Linked DNA regions of Homo sapiens. The protein of the gene in region 2 binds, or shares a complex with, the protein of the main gene of each other region. Each region holds a gene or a part of one and is shown on either strand. Other genes may lie near its edges. The genes, in order: CPSF6, NUDT21 and CPSF7.

The links.
Region 1: the proteins of NUDT21 (region 2) and CPSF6 are in contact, whole or in part, in a crystal structure (PDB 3P5T), measured with the Homo sapiens proteins. Residues at the interface, in NP_008937.1 of Homo sapiens: Pro151, Asn152, Glu154, Pro156, Tyr158, Tyr160, Pro162, Ala163, His164, Ile165, Thr166, Lys167; in NP_008938.2 of Homo sapiens: Trp90, Trp91, Thr92, Thr93, Asp94, Glu95, Lys113, Phe114, Glu116, Asn117, Arg118, Ala119, Asn120, Gly121, Gln122, Ser123.
Region 3: the proteins of NUDT21 (region 2) and CPSF7 are in contact, whole or in part, in a crystal structure (PDB 3N9U), measured with the Homo sapiens proteins. Residues at the interface, in NP_008937.1 of Homo sapiens: Arg68, Asn152, Glu154, Pro156, Tyr158, Tyr160, Pro162, Ala163, His164, Ile165, Thr166, Lys167; in NP_001129512.1 of Homo sapiens: Trp91, Trp92, Thr93, Thr94, Asp95, Gln96, Glu112, Lys114, Phe115, Glu117, Asn118, Arg119, Ala120, Asn121, Gly122, Gln123, Ser124.

Annotation. Positions count from the first base shown.
Region 1 is NC_000012.12:69,268,411-69,277,696, forward strand, and holds the end of CPSF6 (cleavage and polyadenylation specificity factor subunit 6), read left to right. Parts: intron 1-1,101; 3' UTR 1,102-5,948; downstream 5,949-9,286. UniProt on the Homo sapiens protein: Component of the cleavage factor Im (CFIm) complex that functions as an activator of the pre-mRNA 3'-end cleavage and polyadenylation processing required for the maturation of pre-mRNA into functional mRNAs.
Region 2 is NC_000016.10:56,428,633-56,434,332, reverse strand, and holds the end of NUDT21 (cleavage and polyadenylation specificity factor subunit 5), read left to right. Parts: coding exon 1-2; intron 3-1,599; coding exon 1,600-1,621; 3' UTR 1,622-5,200; downstream 5,201-5,700. UniProt on the Homo sapiens protein: Component of the cleavage factor Im (CFIm) complex that functions as an activator of the pre-mRNA 3'-end cleavage and polyadenylation processing required for the maturation of pre-mRNA into functional mRNAs.
Region 3 is NC_000011.10:61,424,700-61,437,018, reverse strand, and holds the start of CPSF7 (cleavage and polyadenylation specificity factor subunit 7), read left to right. Parts: upstream 1-7,043; 5' UTR 7,044-7,105; exon of another isoform or gene 7,106-7,188; coding exon of another isoform or gene 7,189-7,262; intron 7,263-7,728; coding exon of another isoform or gene 7,729-7,783; coding exon 7,784-7,837; intron 7,838-12,319. Other genes in the region: SDHAF2 (succinate dehydrogenase assembly factor 2, mitochondrial), read right to left, coding at 6,837-6,872.

The DNA.
Region 1 (9,286 bases), on a different chromosome or scaffold from region 2:
TGATGCTCTTAAGATACAACCTAGGAAAGGACATAATAGAAAAATTTATAGCAGTGGCAGAAGTAACTCTTAATTGTAGAGCAAAAAGTATTTTTCAGTTATTTTTATTTCAAAATATCACTAAACTGTGCCCTATGAACATGTTCAAACTGAAAAAAAATTTTAAAAAACCTTCTGCCCTCTTGACTCTTAAATCACTTTATTATTGAAGTGGTTTCTTGTCATTTATACTTTCATTACCGACTGTTTCAGTGGTTACTTATATCCAAGTTAATTGAATGTTTCTTGTGAACCTCTACCTGAAGTTTGCATATATATGTATTCTTTAAATTTTAGTTTATCAACTTTATTCTATTTTTTTTCTTTTATGTGAGTTTTAAATGAACTTTATCATTGTAGATTCCCACTTAGCTTGTTTTGGTTAGTTTATAATACTACGTTAGGTATTTCTATATAGGTGGAATAGACTAAAAGTAAAGTAAATGTTTTAAATTTGTATTACGTCTAAAGATTTGTACGTGGATGTCATTAATTTAAATGTCCATACTCTATTTATAAATCTTACTTACAAATTTTGTAACATGGAACACCATTTGATTTATAATACTTGCAGAAGTTCCTGTATGCTGTTAAATAAATTAATTTGTAAAATAATTTTGCATTTTATATTTAGTTCAGCATTTAATTGTTAAATGAGTTTATAGACTTGATATGTGGGTGAATGAAAAATATTTACATAAAAATCATCCAAGCATTTTCCATTTATTTTTGTAGTATGCATATTTTAGAAAATGACTTATGAATGTTTCCATCATCACAGAAACAGTAGCTGCTATGTTTTCATTACTGCTTCAGTCATTAAATTTATAAGGCAATAATATTTAAGAAGAATGAAATCAGAATGTCTCAGTTTAATCATCAGGTAAATTGGAACATTTCACCACCACAAAGGCAGCTACTGTTTCAGTTAATTCTTATTTTGTGTTAGAATACATAACAGTGAAGTAGATGCACGACTTGTGTATGTATAGTTAAGCCAGCGTTTTTCTGTGTATTTTGGGGAATAGCAAAATCTACATCACAAATTTTGACACATTACAGCTGAAGGAAGAGGATCACCTTCCAAGACAAAACAGTCTTCATGGGGGAAAAATGACGCTTGTCCAGCAGTTTGCTTCTTGTGATTGAACTGAACCTGTAAGGATTCATGGATAAAATGAACAGGAATAGATCTGAATAAAGCAAATCTGCATAAATGGTAACCAGTAGCTCTACTTTTATTTTTTATGTTGCTTAACTGTTTTATTTGAAGGAAACCTGTGTGATTTAAAAAGTTATAGCTTTTGCAACTTTATTACTGGTTATATACATTTGGCCATTATGATGTGCAAGCAATTGGAAAAAAAGTCAAGTAAATGCTTGTTTTTGTAGTAGTTTGTTCTTGTTAAAAATGTTTATATGATAATGTCTGTAAACAGCATCACTTTGATTACAATAGATGTAGTGTTGTAATAAACTGTTTAATGGGGCTGATGTGTAAAGCTGTTCAAGTTATTTGATGTTTACACCTCAGGGAAAGTCTTGTGTTCAGCAATATCTAAAGATAATGTTACTATGACAACATTTTTACTGTCCTTTAAAGCATTGCAATAGCGTTTTTGGATATGCCTCAATCTAATCTTGCGTTCAGTGAATTAAACATAGTAATTAAGTGTCTTTTGCCCTTGATTTTGATATTAGAATAGGTGATTACATGGATATTTAATATTTCTATATTCTGCTTTTCTAGCTGTTTTTACCTAGTTAGCTTGTGACTTTGCTGAATGGTATGTAAACTTGTAAAAATAGAGATTTGACAGACATAGCAATCTAGTCAATGTGTAAGGGGTCAAAAAAACAGAGGTTTTAACACATAAGTAAAAACCCGTACATATTTGATGTGTAATGCAGGTTAATTACAACACAGATGTACCGAAACACTTAATTGTGAACCGCTAACATTGAAGAAATTTTGACAATTCCGATTTGATGCTGCAATTACTTGCTGTTTTTATTGATCTTATGGTTTATTTCTTAAGCCATAGTCAGTGTAAATACAGCCCTGCAGCAGGTAAATGTGAGTAAAGAGAGCCTTATATTTTCCAATTGGTATAAATTTTTGAAGGATGTGATGTTCATTAACATTCGGTTGTATTCCCCAGTATTTGTAATGGGAAATTACAGATAAACCGTGTCTGCACAGTTTAAGGAATACTATGTATATTCATGCACCGTATTGATTCATGCTATAGTTACTTAATCAAAGATTTTTTTCAAACCTGCCTTACATATAGGCCCACTTTAAAAGCACCTGACTAGCATGTGTTCTTGATTGCAAAATTGGCAGAGGCAGGGTGTCAACTTGATTAGGTGTTTTTATGGGAATGTAATTTGAAATCACTACTTCAGAAATTTGACTTAAAATTCTTGAGCACGTTAATATGTTTTTAAGATCTGATTATCTTTGAGAGATCTTCTGTTAATACACATTGGTTGTTAAAGAGTACCCAAATTCTAGGACAATGCTTAAAGTGTTAAAATACCCTAGATACTGTGTTATGTGCAACTGTAGAAACCCTCCAGAAATTTCCACTGCTGTTCTTCACTTTCATCTTGTCTGCTATCAAACCACTTCTGACAAAATTAGCTGTTTTGAATTACCCATATCACTGCCAGTTTTATTTTAAAATATTTTGTGTTTGAAGTATCTGTGCATGGGATCGTTGATGTTTATCAGAACTGTTCACTTTCAGAAATGATTTTTTAAAGCATTTTGTTGAAAATGCGGTTGCTTTTTTAACATTATTTTAGAGTTGTATCAAAATTTTCCTGTTTTCTGTATATTGTTGTGTCATTTCTTGGCTTTTTAATATTTTGACTACAATGCCCTAATGCGAAGAAGTATGGACATATAAATATTACAAGAGAAATTAGTTAATAGTAAAGGGTTAAAAGGTAAGTAAAATGTCCATGAAAATAAAATTTTCTTTGAACAGTTTAAAAATGGAATCACAAAAATCTAACTGCACTTGAAATGAAACTGGAAATTTTATACTAATTAAATCCTTTATTTACCTTTTCATATTTTATCAATGGAACCTTTTAATTGCTCCTTCTATATCACTCTTCTCCTTGCTTGGCTGATCTCATTACATGACTTTCGTTACAGACAGTGTGAGTGTACTAGATTTGTTTGCTGCTAATCCGTTATTTTAAGTGTTGTCAGAAGGAAATAACTTCTTGGTTTGACCAAGTAATTTTGCAAAGTCCTTCTCTACCTGATAACACGTGAATGTATAGCAGTAAAGGTGAAAATTGCAGGCCTTGTTTTGTTCTTCATACCCCCTTCAGTTGTTTATGGGTTAATGTTATTTGAAAACTCTTCCTTTTTTTAATGTGTAAAAACAATCCAAAGAGATAAATCCTTGCATAGACACCAAAAACAGTGTCTCAGAGACCTTTTCATTTTTTCCTTAGTTAATAACTGTAGTGGATGTGAAAACAAACGAGTTGAATTTTAAAACATAGCATTTATTAGTGCTATACAGTCACATTCCTTTCAGCCAGTAGTAAAGTTAAACAGATGAGTGATACAGTACCTGAATGGTACTGCTTCTGAGGCAACACTTTGGATTGAAAGTGCTGCTTTTGGTTAAAGGAACTATGTTGTGGAAAGCATATTCCAGTGTAAATTTGCAGATGTGTGTTTTTTTTTTTTGTCACTTTTCATAAGGTTTGGAGTAAGTTGCAGTGGCTTTTGATCATAGTTTAGCCCATTTAATGGTCCTTTTACCTAGAATGTTCTTAAGCAGTTAATGACAATTTGGAATACACAGATAACTTGTAGCTTAAGATACTATTTTCATTTAATTCTCCTGTGGAGAATATTGCTTTATTTTTTACTAGTTTCAGGTCAGTTATTAAAATAAACATGGAGGTTTTAATGAATGTTGTATAATATTTTATAGTGAAGGAAAATTGTGGAAAGGGCAAAGACTTTCTCTTTCCCTTATGTATTTAACTGTGCCAATCTAAATACATACTGTTTTATACAATGAGATGCATTACAAGACTTTTCTGTTGGAGTGCTCTCGACATTTTGGTTTTCATACCTGAATGATCATTGCATTTTCTGTATTTTCTAAAATGGCTCCAATTTTGTGTTTTAAGCTTCAGCTTAAGAGGAAGTTTATGTTCTAATTCTTGACTGAGAATACAGTATTGAGATTCTCTGTTTTACAGATAACAACTGGTTTTTATTACTCATTAAGTTCATTTGCATCCCGTAGCCCTCTGTAAATGTTTCCCCTAGTTGTATGTACGTAAATGCACGCTTATCCAGTGTATATTAGACATTTTTGTGCTAAAATATATTAAGTGGGATTTTTGTAGCAAAGCATTCTATTTTTCTGTTCTTACAGTGTGTGTGTGTGTGTGTGTGTGTGTGTATGCGTTTTTTTAACCTTAACTTCAGTTTAAACACTGGTGTATTTATTTTTTTAAGCAACTTGACTCTTAGAAGCCTTAGACTGATTTTTTCAATAAATATTCAACCAAAAATTATAAATTTATTAAGATGTGGCCTTACATATGGCATTCCTTGTGTTCGTAATGTGAGATTTTTGATTTAGATAAATCAAGATTCAGGATTAAAGTTTCATTGTAAGTTGAAATAGAAAATGTATTAAAATGTCTAGGCTTCTGGGAGGAAGTTCTTATACTCTTCTTTCTTGGCATTAGAAAGAAGCAATATGAATTTTTGTGAATATTCTAAATATTCAGGCAACACTGTTCAGATTGATTTAGGTTTGTCTTAACCAATGTTCTTTTTTTAGAATTTCAGGTTGTGGCATTCACTGAGTATGCAGCTACTATGGTTTTTGTATGGGACGTATAAATACTTGATTATATACGACAGATTTTAATGTCTTTAAAGACTTCCTGCTGTATTAACATATTGTAATGGAGTCTTTTAAATACTAGGTTGAATTTAATTGAAGTCACACACATCTTGAAGTGGTAACTGCATAGTAAATACTACCAAGAGTTTTTTTCACGTGGGAGTATCCTAAAACTCTGCCATGGGTGTAAATGTTTTACATTAATTTCATAATTGGACAGACCCTGCATTTAGCGAAAACATTTTGTTTTGAAAGTGTGTTCTTTTTGTCGCACTGTTACTGCGTAACACTTCTCAACATTCTGTAAGTTAAATTATTTTAAAATAACTATGGTGAATTCATGTTTATTTTTTTACTTTGAAAATTGTAGTACTCAGGTGGTATTTAATGGGAAAGGATCCTTTGGGTATAAATCATAATGTATTTTAAGGAATGCATCTATAACATTGATAACTTTAGCCTTAAAAAAAAGGTCTATTATTCCTTCCTCTGCATCCCATGGTATATTAGCAAAGTAGTTTACAGCCCTGTACAGCCTTACAAAGTTGTTTTACAATTTTTAATGGAAAGCCCTTAACAACAACAACAAAAAATTGTATCATTTTACCAATATCCACGAATTACTGATCACAGTTTGTAAATAATTTGTTTAATATCAGAAGGCCAAAGAAAGTCTTAAAATTTTAGCTATTGACTCTATGGTGACTTCACAATAAGATTTCTGTGCAAAAAGGTAAGGTGATAATTGATCTAATAGACTTTTTTTTTTTTTTTTTTGCTGTCCATGAGAATTAGACTTCATATTAGCTTCAATTAAAAAGCTCATTCCATTTTATTAAAATGTTTGTAATTGCAATTTTGTGTTTAATGTTTACTTTGTCTTTCCTTTCTTTAGCATTTAGGTGACTGTTCGGCAGTTTGATATATGGCCATTGTCGGCCTTAAACTGCACTAGTAACAAGCATGGTATTTATCTTGTATTGAAAATAAAACAAACTTTTGATAAGACTTTGCAGTTTGTCTTTTTTGTTTAATTTGTTATTTGGTAACCATTGTGTATGGTTTTAAGTAGTTAATGTTTATTGGCAATATGCAGTATAGCAGAAATTGGACTGTTGTCTGTATTCTATCTTTAAGCCAGATAGTGGTGGTTTTCTTGTGTATTGACATTTTGGTGCTCTTTAAAGCGACTGATAATTGGGCTAAAATTAGGATTAAGAGGCCTGACAGATTTCCAGGCTGTTACATGGTTTTTAAATGGAAGATTCAGAAAGCATTTGTCTAGTTTTAGAGGATCATTAACCTTACTAGACTTAAGTAAAAATGTTTGTAGCAAAAATATTTTACTGGTTAGCTTGGAAACATTATGGGGTACTTTTGAAACAGTAACAGACTTCAGTTTCAGTGATTTCAGTAGATATTTCTGTGCCAGGTATTAATATCAGGCCTCAGATTTCTTACCTGCAAGCTTCAGAGTATTAAAGGTAACAGTTCTAAACAAGTGAATATGAACATGAGAAATAATACTACCATCACTGGGATCCCTTTCCATGCCTCCACTAAAATTGTGGTTCAGATTTTTGTTAGATTTCCTGTTACTGTTTGTTGTATGTTTCCATTGATCAATCCCTATTTGTGTTGAATTAGTTGAGACTCTCGTCCCTACCCTGTGAGGTCATTTAACTTTAAGAGAAGATCATTAGGAATATTTTTTGGCCAGATGCCACACTACATATGACTCAGTTCAAGACCTAATTTAGTGAAAGAGAGAAGCTTTTTTTTTACAAAAGATTTATGGACAGACTTTTCCCAGTCTTCCTAGTTTTGTTTCAGAGCCATTACCATGAAACAATAATTATTAGAAATGATTTCCAATGATGTTGTTGGTCTTTTTCTCCCATTTATAGTTCATTAACAGTTCTTGGATTTTCGTGTGGTACATCAGTTCTGATAAACTATTGTCAGTTCCAGATAAATGATATATACTTTACCTTTCAAAAATCTATATTCATTTTATAGAAAAACTTTAAAAAATGAAATTTACTACTTTAATGTTATACTGAGATCTGTAGGAAAAAAATGGTGAATGGGAAAGGGAAGTACCTTTTAGGCAGAGACTTGCAAAAAGGGCTTTTGGCAAGAGGAGCATGCTAGTAGGAACTGAAAGAATGCCAGTTTGGCTGAAGCAGGGAGTGAAGAACATAGCCTATGTGTGGAGCTCAAGCAGTTGGCAAGGCTAGGCTCTCCGGAGCTTGTAGGTCACATTAAAGATTGTCCTAAGAGTCATGTGGAATCATTGAATTGTGTGAAGTGTCATAATCAACATTTCAAAAAGCTTCTTGGCTGCAGATTAAATTGATAAAAGAATAGATAAAAGAGAAACACCTCTTCCTGTCAGGAGAGAAGATAAGGGTAGATAAAAATAGAAGTTTGTGGGCTGTAGGTGTGTGGTAGAAATTTTAAGATGTCATATTTAGTGACTTATGTTTTCTTTGAAATAGAAATTGAGGGCATTGTGGTGTGGGCATGGCTTAGTTTAGAAGTAACAGTGTTTATCTGTGAGATTGTCAGGGTTTGCTATCTAAGATAAGGCTCCCATTTTTATGGTGGCAGTCCATCTAGTAACACATTCATCCCCTGGGAGAGGGTAGATGGATCAAGCTATGGGACGGAGAAGGCAGTAATTGTCTTCATCAGTTTTCACTTTAACGGTTGTCAACCCAGCTGAAGAACACAATCACCGATGCTGTCCTGTTGTTTTTTAGGGGATTGCTATTAACATTTTATTTTTTGAGACAGTCTCGCTCTCTCACCCAAGCTGGAGTGCAGTGGCGCATTCTTGGCTCACTGCAACCTGTGCCTTCCAGGTTCAAGTGATTCTTCAGCCTCAGCATCCCGAGTAGCTGAGACTATAGGTGTGAGCCATCACACCCGGCCAATTTTTTTTTATTATTTTTATTTATTTATTTATTTATTTATTTTTTGTAGTTTTAGTAGAGACGGTTTTTCACCACGTTGGCCAAGCTGGTCTCGAACTTCTGGGCTCAAGTGATGAGTCTGGCTTTGCCTCCCAAAGTGCTAGGATTACAGGCGTGAGCCACTGTGCCTGGTCAACCATCAACATTTTTTAAAAATTGTTTTTGTACCTATTGCTTCATTAGTTTCTTAATTATCCTATAAGACAGTTAGTATTCTTTTTTTGTTTTTCTTTTTTTGAGACAAGATCTTGCTGTCATTCAGGCTGCAGCGCAGTAGTGTGATCATGGCTCACTGCAGCCTACCCCGGGCTCCTGAGTAGCTGGGATCACAGGTGCATGCCACCATGCCTGGCTAACTTTTTTATATTTTTGGTAGGCATGGGGTTTTGCCATATTGTCCAGGCTGGTCTCAAACTCTTGGGGTCAAGCAATCTTCCTGCCTTGGCCTCCCAAAGTGTTGGGATTATAGGCATGAGCCACCACACCTGGCCAGTGTTCTACTTTTAAAAGGGAGGTAATGGGCTCTGAAAGGTTATGACTAGCAGAATATAGTGAGTAGAGGTTAGAATGATTTTATGATTCTAAATTTTCAGTTATTTACTGAATGTCATGATACTGAGCCACCACCCCTGTAAGATTTTAAGCTTTACTGATACCCAAACTAACCATTTAGGAACATACTACTTTAAATTTTTCATTTGCACAAATGTTGAGTACCTACTCTACAAGATACTGTGTTAGATACTTTTGTGTAAGATAGGCCATAGCATTTTATTGTGGTATCTTGTCTCATGTAAATACAGGTTCTACCTACACAATTACTATAGCTGTCAGATATGAGGTAGGTGGGTCTAACATGCAGAAAATGTAGGCACTGAGTCTAGAAATTGGACCCCTCCCCATTACAGTATAGAAACCAGTCCCGTGTACCACTTTAGCTCTTTATTCCCCCTGAAATAGGTTATCATTTTACATCATGACCTCTTCAGCTTTCCTCAAGTAAGGGGAAAAAATTATCTTAACACAAAATGCAAGAATCTTACCTAGGCGTCTAACCTAAGAATACCGTCAGAAGTTATTTGTAGAACGTGAAAACTGGAGCTAATAGTTATTAAAGGTAGGCCGGGTGCAGTGGCTCACACCTGTAATCCCAGCAGCACTCTGGGAGGCCTAGGCAGGCGGATCATGAGGTCAGGACATCGAGACCATGCTGGCTAACACGGTGAAACCCCGTCTCTACTAAAAATACAAAAAATTAGGCGTGGTGGCAGGCGCCTGTAGTCCCAGCTACTTGGGAGGCTGAGGCGGGAGAATGGCATGAACCCGGGAGGCGGAGCTTGCACTCCAGCCTGGGCGACAGAGCGAGAC
Region 2 (5,700 bases):
AGGTACAGAAAGTTGAACATTTTTTGGTTCATCCATATTAACTGTCAAATTTAAAATATTCTGAGCCACTTGGGAAGGTATAGTTCATGAATTTTGGTCTTTAAGGAAACTAAGAAAGTAGATAGACTCTTAGATCATGTGCAAGCCATAGATTAATTGTGACTAATACCATCCCCAGACTCTTAAGTTTCGGCATGACATTCTGGTATTTGTGCAACTGCTCTTCCCTAATTCTGATATTCTCAAGAGTTAAGGTTGATGTCTTTATTCAAAAAAGAGATGGTTAAATAGCAGTCAACAGTGTGTAAATATGAGCGGAGTTGTCTGTATTAAAATGTGGCAAATTGGCTGGATGTAGTGGCTCATGCCTGTAATCCCAGCACTTTGGGAGGCTGAGGCGGGGGTGTATCACCAGGTCAGGAGTTCGAGACCAGTCTGGCCAAGATGGTGAAACCCCATCTCTACTAAAAATACAAAAATTAGTGAGGCGTGGTGGCCAGCGCTTTTAATCCCAGCTACTTGGGAGGCTGAGGCAGAGAATTGCTTGAACCCGGGAGGCAGAGGTTGCAATGAACTGAGATCACGCTACTGCACTCCAGCCTGGGCGACAGAGTGAGACTCCATCTAAAAAAAAGAAAAAAAAGGTGGCAAATCGAATATCTTGGTGTAATATATTCGTTTTCCTTTTTTGAAACTTACTATATTTTGGCCCAAATTGAGGCTTGTGGGATTAGGTCCTGAACTTTTACGTGGGGTTTGAATCTTTAGGCAGTTAGAGTGATAAGAAATGCAGTTTTTTAAAAGTTGACTTGTACTGGTTGAGGTCTCTATTAGAGCCAGCCATATATAGGAATTGCAGAATAACATGGTGGTTATGAAAGTAGATTCTGCAGTCAGTGTTTTGGATTTGAAGCCCAACCTCAGTACTTGCTGGCAGTGTGACCTTGAACAAACTATTATACCTATTTGACTGTTTCTTCTTCTGTAAATGGGGATAGTAGTCTCTACTTCAGAGGATTATGAGGACCAAGTGAAATAATGCATATAAAATGCTTACAACAGTGCCAGTAATCTGGTACATACTTAATAAATGTTAGTGAAATTGGCCTTTTGTGAAAGCTTATTGAGTATGAAATTGCTCTTTCTACTTCGTCACTAATCAAACCTTATCTTTTGCCACTCCACTTTGGCCTCCTGATAGGTTACAAGTTGAAATGCATATGGGGGGAAAAGAGTCATATTATTTATTCAAACACCTACTTGTCAAGTGCAGGAACTGTGCTGAGTAGTCAGAGTATAAGGACATGTAGAAACTTTTCCTGCCTTAAAGAACTTATTAGTGGATAATTAATCAAATTTATAGTCTTAATTTTTTTTATTATAAGTATTCAACAAGTGTTTTTAGTGTGTAAGATGTGACCAGTGAGGGAAAATTGGTGTAGAAAATGCCAAACGTGGTAAAAAGGCATTCGAAGGGGAAAAAAAGAAAATGCCAGACATGCTAAGGGAGGGCAGAAACATCCAGATAAATTTATTTATCTAATATGGAAAGTAGTATGTACTGTCTTTAATAAAGGTATTGTTCTTTTTAAAATTCAGGTTCAATTTTATTTACAACTGAATTCCTGCGCAGTGGAGAAGTAAAAGAAGCCGCTTGTCTCTGTGAGCACAGCTATATACAGTGTAGAATAAATGTGGTAGAAAAGTTTTTTTGGTTTTATCTCTTTTGCGATCCCTAAATTGCCACCTTTCTATTGTTTGAATAGTAAAATTAATATGAAGAACTAGATAGTGGTGTAAACAAATGTGATAATGTTTATTTACTTTCGGTTCTGCTCATACTTTTTTGTACAACATTAAAGAAAATGGACTTTTTTTATTTTAATTTCTCATTAAACTTCTAAAATTCTTATAGGTGAGGATCATTTTTCCCCCCACCTTAGGATGGTGAATGTTGCAACACAATGACAGGTTTAAGTCAGTCAAGTTTATTGGACCCTTGCTTTGATACCATTCTTGGGCACATACTCCAAGATTGTATTAGATTTTTGTGATGAAGAGCTTCCATTACTTCTGAAAACTATATTTATCTGAGTGAGTCCAAGGTGCAACTCCTAAATGAATTGTGTTGCAGAGAACTCCCAGTATAATTCACTGACCAGTACATTTTATAACCATCCAGGCCTTGGTTTGCAAGCAACAGACCTTAAACATACAGGAAACTATTAAAATTGGCTCGATCAGTAGTCATAGGAATTGGTATAAGAAGAGACTCATTTAGAGCTCAGAGTTTTCTTCACATAATGGGGGTATTAATTATTTGTGCTGTTGCGAAATTATGTGTCTTATTCTTAAAGCCATGGTAAAAATAGGGATCTGTGAAGGAAATTTCTAAAATTGGATGTATTAGGTTTTGAACTCTGAGATTGCACAAATATTCAATTAACTTGAAGTTGTGTACATAGAGAAGAAAATTTGGTTTTAGCAAATGACAGAGCCTTCAAAAATATTTTTGGAATAATGTGAATCAACCGAAAACTGGGGGCAAGGCAGAGGACAGGTTTTCTCAGGTTAAGAGAAAAACGAAATTTTAAAAACTTTAAAAAATACTGATAAATTCGGATCAAATTTGGGGGAATAAAAAATATTAGAGCAAAGGAGTTTGCTGGTTGTGTCATTATTTAATGATCAAAGTATAGCATGTATGCCTTATTACAGACTTGTTGACTATAGGCTTAATGTAAAAAGGAATCTTGCCAGATGTAGCTACTTAAGGAAAAAAGGGTTTTTAATAGAAATGAACTTTTGATTAGTATGGTGCCAGTCACAGGGCTATTTTCCTGAATATTGGGTGATGTCAAAGGTATATGATACTTGAGGAAATCAGGCCAAGTGTAGCTGAGCAATTAATAAACACTCAAGTTTTTTTAGTTGGGGTCATGTCAAACCCTCACATGGTGGTTAAGTAGTGACTAACTGTGCATGTCCTTCATGGTAGGTGAGCACCAGTCTCCATGATCAAAAATGCCCCAGTTTCCTTTGAAAAAGCCACTAGTTCTGTGAATTGTCCTTTTCCCTCCTGCCCCTAACAGTCCTACCCCTCTAGCCTACATTAGCATATTTCTCATGTAATGTATTTTGCTGGTAAGCTCATCCATTAGCTGCGTCCTTCAGCTATTCCTTTAGATTGGAGGAAGTGGATATGAAGATGGATTGATTCAGCTCACCTTCCATGATTGCTTTTGAGGGAAAAGCTACAGTGGCCACATTTCAGATGTTCACTTTTGCAATTTGTGGAGGGTGGAGAGAGGTAGACTTTTGTTGTGTGTTTTATAAAGTACTCTCAGTAAGGAGTGTTTGAGTTGAAGAGTCATCTGATTCGAGGCCACTCATGTTCTTTGTAACTTAAACTTTGACCAAGAAATTCTTCACTTCTCACTTCTTCACTTCTTCCCAATATACAGTAAGTACGTGAGCCAGTCATCCATACACTAAGGCCTAGTTGAGAAAAACCTTTGATTCAGGATGGCTGGGTTACTAACCTTGAAATGTAAGAGATCTGGTTTTGAATGTAAAAGTTGCAACACACAAACGGAAGTCTTAAAAACTTTTTGCTCTGGTCAGTTACAGGTGGATCCCCAATAATCTGTTTTTGGTTTTCTGATGGAAATAATAGAATTAGGGGAAATCAAATCTGGTTGGTAGGTGTCTACAGTATTAGAAGAGGGTATAAGGGCACTGTTTAACACTAAGTTCTAATACTTCCAGAAACTGTGCATTCCAGATCTACATACTAAATGCTCTTATCATTTTGAAATGGGCTCTTGATTAATAGACCCATATTTTTTAGTGGCTTCTATGTTGTATATTTGTCTAAAATGAAAGCTCTTTTGCGTTCTAAAACTACAATATATGTCATCTTATTTTCCCTGAGTATCCAAGTATAGTGCAGATTCTATGTAAAACTACTAAATGACACTGGAATATGTTTAGTAGATTAGGGGGAAAAACTATAAAGGTTTATACAATTGTTTGTAGTTACATTTAGGATGGACTTATCCCTTTGGAGAAGAGTGAAGTTTGTTTTTTCGCCATGTGATGAAGACCACTGTGATTTTTTAAAAAAGTAGATAATACTTAAAATGGCGTAATAATTCTGCACTTGAATTTGTACTGTTAACAGCACATTTGGAAGATTTTAAAACTTTTTATTGTCTTATAAATAGCATTCACTTATTATTTTGGATATTTAAGGGTTCCATTAAGTTAACACTGTATTTGGACAAAGTGTGACCAAATTAGCCAGTCTGTTTTCTTCCATGTTTAATTAGAAGTGAGAGGTAGAAGTACTTCAAATTCAACAGGCCAGCAAGCAATCGGCTTAAAATTCCCTTTCTTAAATGTTGTGCTCTTATGTTCTCGGCTTTTTAATGACTTTATTTTTACAGTACTTGTTCAGTCACTTGAGATGAAATGCTTGGGGTAGCTTTTCCATCCTCAAACTTAATGTTTTTACTAGTTCATAGTGTTTGGAACAGTATATGCCAATCACTGAGACTGCATCAGAGTTTGCAATTTTGTATGTTTCATTGCCAAAGAAGGCTTAGTGGTTGTTGACTGTAGTATAAGTCAGCTTTCTGTAGCATAAGATTTGATTTTCCCATACTTACTTCACTTGTTATACATCACTGATTATTTGGGTTAAACTGGACTCATTTCAAGCAGTTTGCTTTTGTTCAAATCGTGATGAGAAACCTAATACTGTAATTTGATTTGAGCCATAAAACACATTTTAATATTAGCTTGTATTATAGTTATTAAGCTTGTTTTTGTGGAAAAAAACTTACTAAAACCTAGGTAACTCTAGATTAGGCCAGTTCAGGTGTATTTTGTATCTTAGTAATGGATCATATCGTAAAAATAGAGATAAGTTGGGAAGATATATTGATTATGCTGTTCTGTTGAGGGAAAGGTCATGTATTTAGAAATTTAAACTTTTGGTTATTGTGTTCACATCATAGTATTCAAGCATCATTTATAGTTTGGTTTTGAGAACTTTTCTGGTATTACGTTTATGGCAAATGTATAAAAGAAACAAGTTTTGGTTATATTTTTATATTTGTAAAGTAAGTTTGGTTAAAGTGATCACTGTTCTTTTTTTATTTTATTGTCATTTCAATAAAAAATATTTGAAAGAGAATGACTCTGTGATTGTTTTGGGATAGTAGTCCTGTATGTGTGGCTGCTGATCCTACTGTGCTAGTAGAAATCTTGCATGGTTCGTCACTGTGAGTGGCCGAGGGCCTTTAGGTAAGAGACAGCTTAGCATAATAGCAAGGGCCTGATGGCCTGGGTCACTGATGTTGCCCTCTCCTTGTGCCCCACACACTCCCTCCTCCCATTGTGTGTTAGCAGTGTTTCAGTTTCCTGAGGTGTGAAAGGGTCACTAGATTTGGAACATGAAGGCCACAAGTTAGAAGTTGCTACACAGTTGTGTTAACTGTGTGTAGTCCATATCATTGGGGACTGAGTCCGAGTTTCCTCATCTGTAAAGGGAGGGTTGACTCCTTTAGTTTTTTTTCTCAAACTTGCCTGGAATTCATAATGTTCTATGACACACACCATACCTGCTGCATATGTAATACTGTGTAATTCAATGTTATCTTAAATAGAAAGTTTACCCAAAATACGGGAATATAT
Region 3 (12,319 bases), on a different chromosome or scaffold from region 2:
TCCTTCCTTTGCACTCCCTTAAAATTCTTACAGTGTGGTTTATACTCTACTCACTCACCTGTGTCAAATCCTGAGCACACAGAGACAGCATGATCCCTAATCCCCCAAAGGCTCCCAATCCAGAGAAGTTGACAACTTATCAAGATATGATGTCAAGGTGGTGACCTCAGCAAGAGGTGAAGATGGTGGAGTAGGAAACCCCAGATCCTCCTTCCCCGATGGAGACACTGAGCCAACAGCAACAAACAAACCAATTCCCTGTGAGAAATCCAGAAACCAGTAAGAGGCTCCTGCTCCCCAGGTGAGCACAAAACCAGCTGCATCGAATCCAGCAGAAAAATTTGTAGCACTCATTTGCCATAGTCTCTTCCCTCCCTGCTCAAGCATGATCATGAGATAACCCCCAGCTCCTAGCTTCTACCTGAGACAGAAAGAGAAGACTGAAAAGTATGTATAATGTTCGGACTTTTGGGGGGATCAGGTTTCTGTTTTGTTTGAATCTAAGTGCTAACAGAAAAGGGCAGCAGGTTGAGGGAGAACAAAGAACCATGGAGAACAAAGGTGACAGTTTAGACTGGCAAGCACTCACTCCCTCATCACTCATCCTTGGCTCAGTGCAGAACAAGCAGGAGAAAACTCCCACCTCCCAGCTTCTCCCTAGGGAGGGAAACAGGTGCAGTATGCATCCAACATTCTAGCTTTTTGGGGCTCTCTGGGGGACTGGTTTCTGTCTCTAAGCACTTGAAAGGATCTAGCACACTCTAAATGCCTGGGTGGCCTGCTGCTGATCCAGAGGATCCCTGAAACTGCAGAGAAAGGCCAATACAGCCCAGTGGCCTCTCCCAGGGTTGAGGGGAGTGGAGTGTGCATCTAATATTCTGACTTTTTTTTTTTTTGAGACGGAGTTTCGCTCTTGTTGCCCAGGCTAGAGTGCAATGGCGCGATCTCGGCTCACCACAACCTCCGCCTCCCAGGATCAAGCAATTCTCCTGCTTCAGCCTCCCGAGTAGCTGGGATTACAGGCATGCCCCACCACGCCCGTCTGATTTTGTATTTTTAGTAGAGACAGGGTTTCTCTATGTTGGTCAGGCTGGTCTCGAACTCCCGACCTCAGGTGATCTGCCTACCTTGGCCTCCCAAAGTGCTGGGATTACAGGCGTGAGCCACCACACCCAGTCGTAACATTCTGTCCTTTGGGGAAGCTACCAGAGGGACTGGTTTCTGTCTTGCCCAGCTTGGGGCACTGATGGGACATGGCATACTCTAAAAGTCTGGAGGCCACCGACAGCTGGGAGACTTGTAGCAGCTCCAGAGAAACTGCAGTATCATACGCAGACACTAGAGGGAGCAAGAGATTATGGGCTCCTGAAAAAGGAAACCGGCAAATCCCTCTAAATGGGAATTTACATCCGCAAGTCCAGAAAAGACACATCCTCAGTAAAGGATTGAGAGGCCCTTGGAATCTCTATCCATGCTGACTAGTGAAGGCCAATCACCAGTACAAAGACCAGGAGAGACAGATGATTTTTCAAATGTAGAAATCACCAGTACAAGTTACCAAGCACATGAATAAAGAGGAAAACATGGTCCTATTAAAGGAACGAAATACATCTCCAGAAACTAACCTTAAAGAAACAGAAGTATATGAATCACCTATAAAGAATTCAAACTAGCCATAATAAAGATGTTCAATGAGCTTTGGAACATTGAGAACTTGAACATTGAGCTTGAACAAAATGAGAAAACCAAAAAAAAGACAGAAAACATTAAAAAATAACCAAATGAAAATTTTGGAGCTGAAGAATACAGTAACTGAATTGAAAAATTCACTAGAGGAGGCCAGGCACGGTGGCTCATGTCTATAATCTTAGCACTTTGGGAGGCTGAGGCTGGAGGATCGCTTGAGCTCAGGAGTTCGAGAACCAGCCTGGGCAACACAGTGAGACCCCGTCTCTAAAAAATAAAAATACATAAAAATTAAAAAATTAGGCCCGGCGTGGTGGCTCATGCCTGTAATCCCAGCACTTTGGGAGGCCAAGGCGAGTGGATCAAGAGGTCAGGAGATCAAGACCACCCTGGCTAACAATGGTGAAACCCCGTCTCTACTAAAAATACAAAACATTAGCCGGGCATAGTGGCGGGCGCCTGTAGTCCCAGCTACCTGGGAGGCCTGAGGCAGAAGAATGGCGTGAACCCAGGTGGCGGAGCTTGCAGTGAGCTGAGATCGTGCCACTGCACTCCAGCCTGGGCAACAGAGCGAGACTCCGTCTCAAAAAAAAAAAAAAAATTAAAAAATTAAAATAAATTAAAAAATTCACTAGAGAAAATCAATAGTAGACCTGATCAAGCAGCAGAAAGAGTCAGCAAACTCAAAGACTGGTCATTTGAAATTAGTCAGGGTTTTTTCTAAAAAAAAAAAAAAAAAAAGGAATGAGAAGGAGTGAAGAAAGCCTTAGGGACTCCATCAAGGAGATCAATATACACATTATGAGAGTCGTATAAGAGAAAGACAGGGGCAGAAAGCTTATTAGAAGACATAATTGGCTGGTCTCAGTGGCTAATGCCTGTAATCCCAGCACTTTGGGAGGCTGAGGTGAACGGATCACCTGAGGTAAGGAGTTCAAGACCAGCCTGGCCAACATGGCGAAACCGTCTCTACTAAAAGTACAAAAAGTAGCCAAGCATGGTGGCGCGTGCCTGTAATCCCAGCTACTGGGGAGTCTGAGGCAGGAGAATTGCTTGAACCCAGGAGGCAGAGGTTGCAGTGAGCTGAGATTGTGCCATCGCACTCGTCTCAGTGATAGAGTGAGACTCCATCTCAAAAAAAAAGACATAATGGCTAAAAACCCCCAAAGTTGGGGAAAGAAGTGGACATCCAGATTCAAGCCTAACAGATCTCAATTAACATGAACCCAAAGAAGTCCATACTGCGACGTATTTTAATCAAACTGTCAAAAGTCAGAAAAAGCTGGGTGCAGTGGCATGACCCTATAGTCCCAGCTACCTGGGAGGCCGAGGTGGGAGGATTGCTTGAACCCAAGAGTTAAAGTACAACCTGAGCAACAAAGCAAGATCCTATGTCTTTAAAAAGTCACAAAAGAGACACCAAGGATGTGCATGCACAGAGAAATGTGAGGACACAGTGAAAAGGTGGCCATCTGCAAGGCAAGGAGTGAGGCCTCGAAAGAAACCAAACCTGCCAACACCTTGCTCTTGGACTTCTAGCCTCCAGGACTATGAGAAAATTAATTTCTGTTCTTCAAACCACACAGGTTATAGCAGCCCTAGTAAACTAATACAGCATGCGATGAAAATTCAGATTCCCAAGCCCCACCATAAACATTCTGGATGAGAATCTCTAGGACTGGGCCCTGACGAATGAATTTTTAACAACCCTCTAAGAGATTCTGATGCAGACTGAAGGCAGGGATTCCTACTTTCTATACTAAAATAACATGATTGAGTAATTTCTACAGAAATGAATGCGGATGGGGAGGACTATCCTCATCAGTACAAGGAAATTGTTCTAATAATTGGGATGTCTTATTATTTTAGCCAAATTTCACCCATTTTTTTCTGTTAGTATCAAGGCAGCATTCCATAAAAGAAACAATAATGGTTGTCACATAGTTCCAGGGAATTGTGTGATACTGGTATGAGTTGTGTTAAATTATCACTGGAGGCCGGGTGCGGTGGCTCACGCCTGTAATCCCAACACTTTGGGAGGCTGAGGTGCGCGGATCACGAGGTCAGGAGATGGAGACCATCCTGGCTAACACAGTGAAACCCCATCTCTACTAAAAATACAAAACATTAGCCAGGCATGGTGGCGGGCGCCTGTAGTCTCAGCTACCCGGGAGGCTGAGGCAGGATAATCGCTTGAACCCAGGAGATGGAGGTTGCAGTGAGCCAAGATCGCGCCACTGCACTCCAGCCTGGCAACAGAGCGAGACTCCGTCTCAAAAAAAAAAAAAAATTAAATTAAAAAAATATATAGAGAGAGACAAGTACAGAATACTATAATACTGTAACTGTGGTATGTAAGTCACTTTTAATTTTGGTATAGAAATTAAAGACAAAGGTATAAAAACAACTATAAAAATTTGTTAATGGAGACAATATAAAAAGATGTAATTTGTGACATCCACAACATACAAGGGGGTCATAAAAGAGCAGAGTTTTTGTATGCAATGGAAATTAAGTTATCAAAACAGATTGTTATGTTTTATATAAGCCACATGGTAACCACAAAGAAATACCTGTGTAAGACACACAAGGAAATGAGAAATTCGTTTCTCAAAGTATGTCACTACAAAAAAAAAAAAGTCAACGAAATATAAAGGATGACAAGAGTGGAAAAGAGGAGCAAAAAGGTTGTAAGACAGAGAACAGTTTACAAAACGGCAACAGCAAGCACAGTTGGCCCTCCGTATCTGTGGGTTCCACACCTGTAAATTCAACCAACTGCACACTCAACCAACTGTGGATCAAAAATATTCAAAAGAAATAAATAATACAACAATTAAAAAACAACTAAGATATAGTATAACAAGCATATACATAGCCTTGACATTGTTTTCGGTATTATAAGTAATCTAGAAATAATTTAAAGGATATGGAAGTATGTGTGTAGATTATATGCAAATACTATGCCATTTTATATAAGAGACTGAGCTTCTGCAGAGTTTGATATCCACAGCGGATCCTACAACAGTCATCCCATGGATACAAAGGGATGATTGTACTTCCCTATTTTATTTATTTTTTGAGACAAGGTCTCACTTCCAATGCCCAGGCTGGAGTGCTGTTGCAAAATCAAGGCTCACCGCAGCCTTGACTTCTCAGACGCACTCCCGCCTCAGCCTCTCAAGTAGCTGGGACTACAGGTGTGTACTACCACACCTGACTAATTTTTTTTAGTAGAAAAGGGGTTTTGCCATGTTGCCCAGGCTGGTCTCGAACTCCAGGACTCACACGATCCACCCACCTCGGCCACTATTTACTTTAGGTATAAATGGATTAAACTCCAGGCCTGGCGCGGTGGCTCACGCCTGTAATCCCAGCACTTTGGGAGGCTGAGGCGGGCAGATCACGAGGTCAGGAGATCGAGACCATCCTGGCTAACACGGTGAAATCTCGTCTCTACTAAAAATACAAAAAATTAGCCAGGCGTGGTGGGGGGCGCCTGTAGTCCCAGCTACTCCTAAACCAGGAGATTGGCGTGAACCCAGGAGGTGGAGCTTGCAGTGAGTCGAGATCATGCCACTGCACTCCAACCTGGGCGACAGAGCGAGACTCTGTCTCAAGAAAATAACATAACATAACATAACCTCCCCAACCAAAAGACATGAAGTGGCTGAATATAATGAATTAAAAAAAAGATTCAACTATATGCCGCACAAGAGACATTTTATTAAAATCTGGAAATCAATGGCAAAAGAAAAGGTGGAAAATTCACAAATATGTGGAAATTAAACAACACACTCTTGAACAATCAATGAGTCAAAGAAGACATCAAAAGGAAAATTAGAAAATATCTTGAGACACGCCGGGAATGGTGGATCACACCAGTAATCCCAGCACTTTTTGGAAAGCTGAGGCAGGAGGATCACTTGAGGCCAGGAGTTTGAGACCAGCCTGGGCAACATAGTGAGAACCTGTCTCTACGAAAAAAAGAAAAAAGAAGGGAAACAACAGGCCGGGCGCGGTGGCTCACGCCTGTAATCTCAGCACTTTGGGAGGCCGAGAAGGACGGATCACCTTAAGTCTGGAGTTCGAGACCTGCCTGGCCAACAAGGTGAAACCCCATCTCTACAAAAATACAAAAATTAGCCAGGCATGATGGCGATGCCTGTAATCCCAGCTACCTGGGAGGCTGAGGCGGAAGAATCGCTTGAACCCGGTAGGTGGAGGTTGCAGTGAGCCAAGTTCGTGCCATTGCACTCCAGCCTGGGCGACAAGAGCAAAACTCCGTCTCAAAAAAAAAAAAGGAAAACAACAAAAAACAAACAAAAAGGAAATATCCTGAGACAAACTAAAACCCAACATATACAAAATTATGAGATGCGACAAAAGCTGTACTAAGAAGGAAGTTTATAGTGTAAACGCCTACATCAAAAAAGAATAAAGATCGAGTCCCTGGGTCTGCAGGAAAAAAAAAAAAGAATAAAGATAGGGATGGGGGTAGGAGGGGAAGATAGAGGCAAAGTTAGTTACTTTATAACAGCAGGCTAGGAAAAAAGAATAATAAGTTCCAGTGTTCTATTACATATTAGAGTGACTACAGCTAATAACACTGTACTGTATATGTCAAGATGCTAGAAAAAGATCTTGAAAAGTTATTACCGTAAATAAATGATAAAGATTTGAGGTGATGGACATGCTAACTACGCTGATTTGATTATTCGATGTACACATGTATTAAAACATTATACTGTACCCCCATAAACACGTACAATTATATGTCAATTATAAACAAACAAAAAGCTGAAGATACTATGTGAAACCACGAAAAGCATTAAAGACTAAAGAACGGGGAGAAGGGGAGCCCAGGGAAGTTGGGCTAATCCCGCCTGGGACGTAGGTGAGAGGCGAATTGGGTCTTGGACGATGACTGATCGTTTAAGCAGATATTTCCAGACCGGCACACAGTAGGCTCACCAAAGAATGGAAGCGACCTTTATTTCCTGAGTTGCAGGATCGGCCTCTCCCTGGGCCTGCCCTTGCCCTGCGCTATCGGGCAGACGAACTCTCCCCAAGATAGAGACCACAGAGGAAGACAAAGGGTAATCCCCGCTGCCGCCCGCCCCGGACGCTAGAACGTTCTCTCTCCTCACCAGCGACGAAGTCGAGAACACTGTAGACACCGCCATTTTCCCCACCTGCACCGGAAACCGGCTGCGCGGGCACTTCCGGGAACTCCTAGCCGCCCGGCCAGCCGACCACGGCAGCCACGGAGGAGCTGAGCCGGAAGGTGCGTCCCTGCGCATGCCGGAAGTGGCGGTGCGTGTGACGCCGGCGGCGGGGGGGGCGGGACCTGGGGCGGAGAGCGGTTCGCGCGCTTCGGGCCTAGTCCGGACTCGCCGCCGCCGCCGCCATATTCCCGGTAACGGGGGCGCGCGGTCGGGGGCAGGTTGGGCCGGAAGAGGGGTCCGGGCCGGCACTGAGGCGGGAAGGGGGTCGGTTGAGATGGGACGGCCGGAGTCTGCGGGCGGAGGGAGTCGCGGGCCTTTTGAGGGAGGAGGCAGAGCGCGCCGGGCCGGGTTTGTCGGGAGGGAGCGGGGCGGGCCTAGCTGGGGGCGAAGAGTAGGCCTGGGTTGGGGGCAGAGGCGGCTGGAGCTGCTTGACACCTGGGGGCTCTGGCCGGAGCCGCCTTGGGGGCTAGGCAGGTGCAGCGGATAGGGGCTGCGGGCTTCGCCGCGGTCATTCTTCGCAACGCCGTCCTAGGGCCACTAGGACCCGAGGGTGGGACTTTTCCGTCGCGCCATAGGCAGCTGCGGCGCAGACGCGGCGCTACCCGGGTCGGGCCCGAGGGTGATGGGCAGCGACCCCCGGCGGCCTGGGAGAGCGGTGGGCGGCGCGAGGCCGGGGGCGGGGCGGAGCGGGTGGGGCCGAGCTGGGGCCGCCAGGATGCTGCGTCTCTGGAGATGGGAGGTTAGCAATCATTACCCTCTTCCCAGCCCAGGACCCTCGTGCCTTCTAATTCTTGCATTTTTCCGAATCCCGCAGTGGCATCTTCCTTACTTTGTCCATCCTCCGGACTCGCGATCTTCCTTCCGGAGCCATGTCAGAAGGAGTGGACTTGATTGATATATATGCTGACGAGGAGTTCAACCAGGTGAGGTGTCATCAGGAGCTTTGGGATTTTCCTTGATCATCTGAGGAATCATTTTCAGCAAACTGGCAGTGGTTTCAAGCTGTACCAGTCCTAGGCTTGAACACGCGTCTATCCGGTCTAAAATTTTTCTCCTGCAGAAACTTTAAAGACTACACTCCATTCCTCTTTATGTTAATTTGAAGCTCCAGGCTTAATTTTAAAGGCTTTGATTTAAGAGCAAATAAAAAGCAGGTGTAATAGAATGGTGAATCAACCTGTGGAATTTACTCCCCAGGAAGCCAAAGGTGGGTGTCAGACTAACCACACTTAAAAATCAAAAGTACATTTGCTACGGTATTCATGAGGACAGTGTTGATACCGGTTCCTTTACATTCTCAACCTGCAGCTGGAGAAGTGTAGTCCCCTCCATCGTGACAGTGCAAAAGCAAAGTAGAAAAGATGACTTTAACATTTAGTTTCAACTCCATTCCAATTAAGTTTTACTTCCTTTTATAAGTAGGTTGACTCCAGTCATGAGAAGTCCACAGGCATTTTGGTATAATAAATTGTATTGGTTACCTTTAGTCTTTCTAGAGGGAATAAAAGAGTAAAGACGTTAGACAAACCAGTTAGAAAACTGATAATAGACCCATGCACATACCCTCAGTTGGATTTGTTTTTATTGTACCAGGGAACATTATACAGAAATTTATCTAGAGCTGGGCAAGGTGGCTCTTGACTGTAATCTCAGCTGCTCTGGAGCCTGAGATGGGAAGATTACTTAAGACCAGAAGTTCAATACCAGCCAGGGCAACATACCAAGACCCAGTCTACAAAAATGTAAAAAAAAACAACAACGAGATATGGTGGCTTGTGCCTGTAGTCCCATCTACTCTGGAGAGTGAGGCAAGAGGTACTCCCTGAGCCCAGGAATTCAAGGCTGCAGTGAGCCATGATTGGGCCGCTGCACTCTATCCTGGGCAACAGAACAAGACCCTGACTCTTAAAAACACAAGAAAAATTCTCTCAAAGAAATAATCTTCCATGCAGTTAAGTTTTTCAGTCTTGAGGTCAATTCTCAAGAATGTTCCAAAATTTCTATTGAAAACGTACTAATATCTTGCCTGGGTTATTTTCAGCACCATTCTATGTAAGTAAGCTGGCTCTTCCCATTTGCATCTTCCAGTGGGTACACATAAGGACCTGGTAAGAGCATGTATTGAATGGGTTAGAAAGGGAAAGTTCCCTGGTTTGACCCTGACTTTGATATGAGGCAACAGAAGAGGCGGATACATGCCATTTATTTTTCACTTGGCATAAGTTTACATGAAAATCTATTTTTTGATGTATTATGGTTTTATAACATGGAAATTATAAACCATACACAAAAGCAGAATAATGTAATGACCTTGTACCCATTATACAGCTTCACCAATTATACTTTTTAATGGCAGGTTTCTTGTCTCTGTTGTGGTTAACTGTGGTCCTTTAAATATAGCTGCTGATTATCTTAAATAGATGAATTTTCCTTTTTTTTTTTTTTTTTTCTTGAGACAGAGTCTCTCTCTGTCACCCAGGCTGGAGTGCAGTGGCGCGATCTCGGCTCACTGCAACCTCTGCCTCCCAGGTTAAAGTGATTCTCCTGCCTCAGCCTCCTGAGTAGCTGGGACTACAGGCGTGGGTCACCTCACCTGGCTAATTTTTGTAATTTTAGTAGAGACGGGGTTTCACCATGTTGGCCAGGTTGGTCTCGAATGCCTGACCTTGTGATCCGCCCGCCTTAGCCTCCCAAAGTTGGGATTACAGGCGTGAGCCACCGTGCATGGCGAAAAAATTTTTTAGTTTTAAATAAGTCCAATAATTATGGATAAAAGAGAAAAGTTCTAGATGTTAATTTAGTTACAAAATCATTGTTTTCCTGAGTTTTCCATATTCATTTGAATCAGACTTTTAATACCTTAAAAAAAAAAACACACAGTCTTGCTGTGTTGCCTAGGCTGGTCTCTCAACTCCTGAGCTCAAGCGATTCTCCCACTTCAGCCTCCCAAACTGTTGGGATTATAGGTGTGAGCCACTCTGCCCAGTTCAGACTTTTTGCAGATTATGTTTTTCCCCCACCAAGATAACAAGAGCGGTCCTTAGTTCTTCTCTTTTTTTTTTTTTTTTTTTTTTTTTTGAGACAGAGTCTCTCTTTGTCGCCAGGCTGGAGAGCAGTGGCACCATCTTGGCTCGCTGCAACCTCCTTTTCCCAGGTTCAAATGATTCTCCTGCCTCAGCCTCCTGAGTAGATGGGACTACAGGCGCGCGCACCGCCATGCCCAGCTAATTTTTGTATTTTTAGTAGAGACGGGGTTTCACCATGTTGGCCAGGATGGTCTCAATCTCTTGACCTTGTGATCTGCCCACCTCGGCCTCCCAAAGTGCTGGGATTACAGGCGTGAGCCGCCGTACCCAGCCACCTTTGTTATTAATGAAAAGCTTTTCCCCTTCTAATTTCTTATCTGTGGATTGATAATAGTGCCATTCATTTCACTTTGAGAAATACGCAGAACTCATTGTCCAGTGGTCACTGCTTTGTTAGAGTATAAGTTATTGGCCTCAATAGTTTGTTCTCTGGTCTCCTCAGTTAAAAAGGACTTTTTTATGGGTCTAAGACAGGCTAAAGGTAGTATGTGGACTTTAATAGATACATATATCCAACGGGCAATATTTGACACTAGGCAAGCTGAAGAAAGTGTGAATTTTGAATATCTTATGTTTTGTGGAAGGTGAGGGATGAGTGCTTCCCCCCCACACACATATCAATTAGTTATTTTTGACAAAGTTAGTGTTAGTGTCATCTGGAAGCTACAGAAATTATTTAAAAAACAAAAAAACAAAAAAACTTTGGCTAGAATTGTTAGAAGCTGGCTTAGTCTGAAGGCACCCAGTACAAATTGTGTTTTAGAATGTTTTAAGAATGTTACTGATTTCGCCCCAAGCTGGCCCATGCACAGGAAGCCCTTCATGTGCACTTTGCTCCTCAAGGAAAATTAATATTTTTCCTAGATGGAACCCTATGGTGCTTATTCCCTGATCTCTTAGAGCATTTGCTGCAAAAGCCTGTTTTTGCCAGAGCTACTTTATTCCTGTAACACAGGGAGTCCTGGGATTCACATTGGCTCTCTTGGGCCAGGGAGAACTCTGGAAAGGTGACTGAGATCAGTTGCTCTGCTGGGAGTTTTGGCTTTTCATACTGAGACAGGCTTTGCACAGTGTCCAGTTCTCTTCCTTATGTCCATCAATAAGTATTTATTTATTGAGCTACTTGTGTTTGCTAAGCACTGTGCCAGGACTAGTGAGGTAAAAGGAAAAAAAAGTGGGTCCCTGTACTCAAAACAGATTCCACTCCTGGTGGGTAGGGGTGGTGGACAACGACAATGTACAGTGAAGGACAAGGAGGGTGTGAAGTGGGAACTGTGGAAATGGTCATTATAAAGCCAAAATTTTTGATTAAGCCTTGGTTACAATTAAAAGAAACAATGGTATCAAGTTGGTTGCTCTGAGAAAAATAAATCCTAGGCTAGTTACTTCCCTCAGTGGGATATGAGGAAGAAGAGGGTGGAGGTTAGGAACACTGAGCAGACAAGTGGAGAAGATCTTATTTAAATTGAAAATCACACATGTTCTCTTTTGTTTACAGGGAAGCAGGAAGTTTCATGAGACAGTCACAGTTCTTTCTGTGCCATTAAACACAAAATTCTTTGAGATAGTTATTCAGTATTAAATATATGTTTCATGTTTAATCTCCCTGGAATGAAACTTTGAACATCAGTGCATGTAAAATGTACTTTTCACTTAATTTGTAGAATTTGATTTTACTTTAATCTATTACTGCATAAATCCGCTGAGAAAAATCTCCGGCCCTTAACTGTGTTTCTGTCTTACTAGCTGAACAAGTAAAATGAATTGTGATGCTGGGGGATTAAAATCCAAACAATTTGATACCTTGTTTCTTCAGTAGAACCCTCAACAGACCTGCCCTGTGCAGTTCCCACCAGCTTCTTTGAACTGAGGCTCTGTGGCCCAGAGAGACCATTTAAATCTTGTGATAATTTTGTATTCATTCAATCCTTTTGTTTCTAAAAGTGGTAGCCATACCAAGATTCTCCAGGATCTAGTCTATCCTATTCTTAAGGGATCTTAAAACAGTGGATTGGTTGCCTAAGCATATAGTACGAAGGGTTTCCTGGTGATGCATTTGGTCTCTGAGCTGTCCAAATCTGCATGTTAGTCCACTACTCAATTTTCAGTGATCATTTTTACATTACAAATTTTAGACACATATACCTGAATTACAGATACTGCATGGAAGGGAATCTCAGTTTGGTTCCATTCGATTATCCAAGATGATGTGTTTCCTTATTCTGTTTACGTGTCATTTGAAAATCCTTGATTTAAAAAAAAAGAAGGCTGGGTGCAGTGGCTTACGCCTGTAATCCCAGCACTTTGAGAGGCTGAGGT